Linked DNA regions of Homo sapiens. The protein of the gene in region 2 purifies or fractionates together with the protein of the main gene of each other region. This does not show direct contact. Each region holds a gene or a part of one and is shown on either strand. Other genes may lie near its edges.

Region 1 (3,658 bases), on a different chromosome or scaffold from region 2:
TCTGGCAATATTTAATTCTTTAGGCATAGAAAGGGAAAATATTATTCAAAAGTGTCATCATTCATCATTTTAGATAAGTTAATACTGGGATTATTTTTCCATAGAGCTTTGTGTTTTAAAAATTATGTCATAAGTATCATGTCAATCAAGATCCTAAAACAAGTATTATTGAAAGTTTGAGATCAGGAAACTCGAATTCAACAAGGTTAATAATAAGAAATCTATATATATATGCTGTGTGTGTGCATGCATGTGTGCATGTGTGCGTGTGCTGTACATGATGAGCACATAGGTGTCTATCATTCTGGTTAAATATTAGAAAGCAAGCAGCAAAGTAGCCCATCCTCTTCTTTGGAATTAGAGAAACCAATGAAGTACTGTATCAAAAATTAGGGGGAGAAAGATTAGAAGTAATAAATGGTAAACAAAGTACAACACGTCTCTAACACATAGATAAACCAATAACTACTTCTATTAAGAACATGAAAACTTGGTGTTTTACCTAGATTAGAACAAGATGCAGAATTTAGCAGACAGTGATACGCTGAATAACCCTTGTGCCCTCCTCCCACAGCACTGGCTCAGACAACCACGAACAATGCCCCATCACCCCTTTGCTGTATTTCCTTTTCATTCCATCTCCATTTCCATTTCTGTGGTGGTTCAGTCAGGCTGGTGGGAAAAATTTTAGTTTTAATAGCCACAAACCTTGTTGGAAGGTCTGAGGGTTTGCATAACTTCAGTAATAAATCAGTCTGAAGGCAGCCTAGTCCCCTTATCTTTAGTTAAATAAACTAGAGTAGAAATAAAGGAATGTGGAGAGTTTACCTAACTAGCTTGTTTACTCGTGTGGTCCTAAGACTAACCTTTGATCTACCATGGGTGCTTAATTGCTTTCTACTTGGGAAGTCCACAATGTCAATTACACTCTAGTGGTGTTGACCCAAGCCTTTGTCAATTAATCTTTACTGAATAAACATAAGTCTTGCTGACTGATTGAGACCATAGTCGCAACTGTTTACAGCACTGTGCGTGGAGTCTGTAAGCGGCCCAGATGCTCAGCTGGACTGGTAAAGCAGAATATCTGTGTGTCAGTGTACTTTATTCATCCATCGTTGGGTCAGGGTCTGTGGGACAGACCCCTGCAAATTTCTGGGGAGCTATTCTGTATCTAGCTATTAGACTGCTGAAGAAACCAAGGTCTTGGGATGATGTTCAGATGACCAACACCTGGAATGGCTGCATGTTCTCTAAGGCTAACACATCTTCCTGGGCTTTGTCAGTGACTTGGAGTGTCACTACTACTCATAGGACAATGACTATTTGTTTAACCTATATAATCAGATAACAACTCTAAGCCTCAGCTTTCTTGTCTGTAAAATAAACTAACTAGCTGATTTCTAAAGTGCTAAGACCTTGCCACTACAGGAATTCTACATCCAAGAGATGTCTTGTTTTGTATTTCCTGAGGGCATGTGAATCTTTTGTATCTAGTAGCTTTGCACCTTTCTTAATGTCTAATTGTTAATTATTTAAACAAAGTGCATATAGCCAAAAAAAAAAAAAATAGAGAAAATGGCCACATATTTTCAGTAATTCCTACAGTCACTTTCAAGACTCTCACATCACTAAATGAGGAATAAAGGAGACTTTGAACTGCATAAACCCACAAATATAATAAGCTGCATTATCAAAAGTGTTTACTTGATGATGTAAGAAGTAAGAATACTGCGAGAGAGTGTAGAATCTGCAAGGTTCTACCTACCTCCTGGCCGTTCATGCTCTCCATCAGTGTGTAAAAGCATGGCAATAGGCATCCCTACGTTCTTGGATCTTCCAGCCACAACCACATTTTTTCCAAATGTTTGAATTCCTTAAAATACAGAGTTCGGTTTAAATGCAGAATTGACAACAAGAAGTAAATTAAACATTTGTACAGCCAACTGAAACATTCTTTTAAAAATTTCTAATTAAATCTGAATTATTATGTGGCTTATCTATAATATGAGCACATTCATTATTTATAAATAATTCATTTTATGCTTCTTTGATTTGTCACTTCTTCTCTGATTATGTACTCATTAAAAACCACAGACATTCTTAAGTTGACATTAAGTTGCTTTTAAACATTGAGAGTCACATTAAGAGTTAGAAGAGTAGAGTTTTAACATATATTAACTGCTTATAAAAAAAGCAAAGTACAACAATGTCGAACTTAATTGGCAATCAAATTTTGAGCAACGCTGGAACAAAACAAGTAAGAAAAGAGGCATTTTTCACAAAGCTCATGCATTTTACTCCATAGGAAAGAAGCACTAAACTTACAGACTTAGAAAGATGTAAAAAAATAAAGCCTGTAGAACCTTCTACTTCTTTTGGACTCAGTTTCTTCATAAGTAAAGCAAAGAAGTTAGAACTAAGGATTTTCCAATACTAACAGTGTAGGAGTATGATTCTAGGATCTGTTTTCCCTTGGAAGTTTTTCTTTCTCAGAAAGAAAACTTCTTTTGTAAGAGTCTGTGAGAGCATTACCGTATCCAGTACAGTACAAGGGTAAATGTTTAAAATTAAAACCCAAGCCAATAGAAATGATAACTATGTGATCAGAACATATTTTTAAAGGTACAGAAAAATATATTTTAGAAAAGTTTTCATCAAAATGCATGAAGTTTACATTTTAAAGGCCGACATATACCACTACTATGTGGAAAATTCACTTCCTATAAGTTGCAACTGCAGTTATCTATAATCTGGCTAATGCTCTTCGTTTCATTTTATTTTGGATTTTTTTTTCTGTTTGTTTTGTTTGTTTTGTTTTGTTTTTGAGACAGAGTCTTGCTCTGTCGCCCAGGCTGAAGTGCAGTGGCATGATCTCGGCTCACTGCAAGCTCCGCCTCCCAGGTTCATGCCATTCTCCTTCCTCAGCCTCCGAGGTAGCTGGGACTACAGGTGCCCGCCACCACACCTGGCTAATTTTTTGTATTTTTAGTAGAGACAGGGTTTTACTGTGTTAGCCAGGATTGTATTATGTTTTGACTTCTACAATTTTATATCTCTCTGTACACTGACGTTTTATGGATTATGATTTTCTGTCACTCTATAGGACTGAGGTAGTCCCATCAAGTCTCAGTGCACAAAGGCTCAGCTCAGCACCTAGCATCCATGTCCTGCAGACCACAAATTACCAACCTGTTCTTTTTATTATTTCCCAAACAGCACTGGCAGTGGCAGGTATGAGAGAATGCTGATCAAGGCACAATCTTCCAATATTGATAATATGAAATCCATCTACATCTTTTTCTGGGGCAATTCCATTGCATATTGTTCGCTCATCAACGTGGTCTGAAAAATAAATAAAATTTGTCTAATTTTAAAATTGTTATTTATTTGGTAGCCTGAAAAATGAAATCTGAGAATCTAAAGCCACATCACTTATAATTCGGCTCTAAAAAAGGTGTAAAGTCATTATTATTATTATTATTATTATTTGCCACCAAAATAGTAAGCCAAAGTGCTCTTGACTGATGGCTGTAATGAACTGCAGTTGGAGTATATGCTATTCCAGAGCCAAAAGTGGCTGGACCGGTGAAAGAAAAAAAATTGTGAATTAAACAATACCAATGAGATCTGGTAATAGCCAGGTGTCATGTCTTTGTTT
Region 2 (3,448 bases):
TGAGCAACTGAGTGAAAGCCCTGGTCTCAAAAAAAAGACCCCTGTAGGTCACAATCATGAGTATTTCTGATATCTCTCTAACCAAATAAGCATGAATTTGGCTTTGCAAAATATTAATTAATGACATCTGGTAGTTTATCATGATATGACCATTACATTGAACTCGAAGTTTTTTTTAAACAAATGAATGGAATCTAATAGATAGTAAAACTATGACTCAACTTTGAGAACTACTAGGATTACAATGTGGCTTCAAAACTGATAAATGCAAAATTATCCAACTAATCCGGATCCACAACTGCTTAGTAAGGAAAACAATCTGGACCAAGTACAGCTCTTTGCTGCCACTTCCCACGATAAAGGATAGGGAGGTACGCACTGTCTTTGCTGCGCTGGGTCGTTGTGGCTCTATATTAACGCAAAGGCAGTGTCAGAACTCTGCTAGCCCTGCTGGTGATCCTGGCAGCAGGGCTCTTTTGTCTGGTACAAAACGGGAGTAACTCAGACAGTGAGGATGAGAAGACAAAGAGGACAAAACAGGTTTCTGCAGCGGGGCCTCTAAGGAAACACAGTGGCCACCCAGGATTAGCCCATGGAGGGAGGAACGACTTCCCTCTGCCCCCAAACACACGCCCGCCCCTGCAGGCTCACACATTCTTTCCAGTGTATAAATTGTCGTTAATTCTCCTCTCAAATTAACCTCTGTTCCCTCTATTAGCAGAGGTTAGTTCAAAGTACCTACCTATCGTGACTGAATCTTGGAAGTCCTGAAAATTTCGTTGGTGGCAGGTAATGGCTGCCTTCCAAACCTCCAGTCTGCATGTAGTTTGGCATGCTCATTAGTGTCTTTCGTTCTGGGCTTTCTTCATAATTTTTGCAACCAATGCATTTGCAAATAGAAGAACACATAATTTGGGCCTGGTAATATAAAATGCTTCAATAAAATTAGGTTGTCTCACAAGTCATCAAAAACTGACAAATTCTATTTGGACCTTAAATAATTCTTCGCGTATATTTGCCCATGACAGAGAGTGTGTGTGTGTCTGTGTGTGTTGAGTGTGAATGTGTGGGTGAGAGCGTGTGTTGAACGTGAGTGTGTGTATGAGTGTGTGTGGGGTGTGTGTGTGTTGAGTGTGAATGTGTAAGAGTGTGTGTGTGTTGAGCGTGTATATGAGTGTGTGTGGGGTGTGTGTGTGTCGAGTGTGCGTGTGTGTGCATGAGTGTATGTGGGGTTTGGGTATGTGTGTGTATATGTGTGAGTGAATGTGAATGTGTGTGTGACTGTGTGTGTTTGAATGTGTGCGTTTGAGAGTGTGTGTGTGTGTGTGACCTGCAGTTTTCATCAAGTGCTGCTGTTGTGGAGATGCCATAGTCCTGCTGCTGACAGAGTGGAGGCCGAGTGTATGGGTGTGAGTCCCAAGCAGAGAGAGGGTGTTGCTCTCCCTTCTCTACCCGGGAGCCAGCAGGCTGCTTCTTTGACTTGTTTTGAAGAAAGCCTGCCTTAGCTGATTATAAAACTCTAGCTTATGGTTCTCTTTCAGCATGTGAGGCTATTATGCTGGTTCTATGGGTGCAGAGAATGTACAAGAGAGTAGAATTCGAAATCTGCCTGAGAGCAGGCCTGTGGCTGGGAGCTGTCAGGGGAGACCTCTCCTGCTGCCTTGTGGGTGGATTTTGTTTCAAGCTTTTCCTGGCAATGTGATGCTGAGGGGGCCGGCATGTCCCATCTGTACCCAGCAAGCCCCCTCTTGCCCCCTCATGCCAAATTCTTGCTCATGTGGGCCCCAGGGGCTGACCAAGAGCTGGCACTGCCAATCACTATGGTTTTTGGCTTTCTCTTTCCTTCAGCCCCCCGGGGATTTCCCTCTGTTCTTTCCAGCTGAGAGATGCATCTTCAGGGGGATGCGTTCTGTTTCATCTGCACCTCTGGGTGTTTTGAAGCAGGAGGCTTTATAGAGTTTCTAGTCTACACGAATGCCAGAGACTAAAGGGCAGTGCTATCCCTTTCCTCTGAGCCTGCACATTCTGTGGGCTGTGCCCAGCATAGGCTCTGCCTTGGGGAAGTGGGCTGAGCCACAGTTCCATGGCAGCCAGTGAAGGTGTTTTGCAGGACAGAGGAGCTGCTGTGGGTGCGATTGGAAGTGGTTCCTCGGGGGTGATGTCAGTCCCATTTCAACTGTGCATCTCTGTCGTGTTTTGACTGTGTTTTCCACATCCGAGCTGGGGAGTGTGGGGTCCACCTTCCCAGGTCTTTCAGTGCATGTCTCCAGAATCAGGTGGACTGTTCTCAAGCCCAACCCTCTGTGACAGACAGCCTTTGAAAAGTATAATTCACAGGAACCCCCAAAAGACCTCAAGCAAACCAAAACAGAGGTTTGTAAGGAAGGTTTGCTCGGCTGTTCCCCTGATAGGGCCTAAGGGTTCCCTCACTTTCTCTTTCCTCCTTTCCCTCAACACAAAGGAAAAGAGAAATAGCAAAGAGAGGTGAAACTGCGACAGCACTGAAGGGGAAAGTGGGTCCTCATTAATCTTTGGGAAAAGAAAAAGCTTTTGTCCAGGCCGTGATCTGCAGCTTGCTTTGTTAGCCTCTCTCCATTGGCTTAGGCTGGCTGTCCATTCTGGTCTCTGATGGGGCTGTGAGCCAGGGAGGAGCTACCCTTGGTCAAAGCACCAGGTGAATGGATGTCTGGGGACAAGCGCCACAGGGACTTGGAACTGACTGAGACTTTGAGGCCAAACTGTCCCCCACGGCCCCACCTAGAGCACCTGGGCTTTGCTCAGGGAGGAAGAGGCGCGGCTGCCCTCCGGGAGCTTCCACCCTGTTGGAGGACCAGCGTGGATCAGTGGCCACAGAGGGACAAAGCCACGCAGAGGGCACCCTCACTGGGTACTCAGGGCTGGGCTCAGGGGAAGCAACATGCTCCAAAAGGAGCCCTCAGCAAATTGACCCGGTTCACAAAGCTCAGCTGTATTTGGGAAATTAATTCAGATTGATGTAAGTGTCCTTCTAGAAACTCTGGAAGAAAAAAATAATTATATTTATCTTTTTAAATTACAGCAAAGTTTTTTTAACCACAAAAGTTACTCAACATATTTACCTGTGTTTTTTGTTAGTGAGTTAGGGAGCTGGGCACTAACCTCATAGCACTCGCAGTAATTCTTCAGGCAGCCTGACCTCCTGCAGTTGCACCCTTTGTTGTGCTGGGGCTTGACATTGCCCAATTGGCCCTTCCCAATTTTTGGCTGGAAAGCTTCTGGATTTCTACCAAGACATGCCTAGGGTAGAATGGGAAGCTCCATCAGGATGGATTTTATCATTTAAAACTCAGCTCAATGAAGGGCATCTCATTTGAATCTGATTGTTGTAAAAGATGCCACAATAAACAGAGTCTCTTGACATGGTTCAGAAGGTGCAGCCCCTTCTTGTTTGATTTCCATTTGTTTCCAT

Evidence for each region.
Region 1: the proteins of TESMIN (region 2) and MTHFD2L purify together in Homo sapiens (affinity purification with mass spectrometry; one large-scale study listed by BioGRID and IntAct). This does not show direct contact.

Annotation. Positions count from the first base shown.
Region 1 is NC_000004.12:74,199,478-74,203,135, reverse strand, and holds part of MTHFD2L (bifunctional methylenetetrahydrofolate dehydrogenase/cyclohydrolase 2, mitochondrial), read right to left. Parts: intron 3,343-3,658; coding exon 3,190-3,342; intron 1,874-3,189; coding exon 1,766-1,873; intron 673-1,765; exon of another isoform or gene 503-672; intron 1-502. UniProt on the Homo sapiens protein: Bifunctional mitochondrial folate-interconverting enzyme that has both NAD/NADP-dependent methylenetetrahydrofolate dehydrogenase and methenyltetrahydrofolate cyclohydrolase activities.
Region 2 is NC_000011.10:68,710,132-68,713,579, forward strand, and holds part of TESMIN (tesmin), read right to left. Parts: intron 3,277-3,448; coding exon 3,139-3,276; intron 919-3,138; coding exon 743-918; intron 1-742.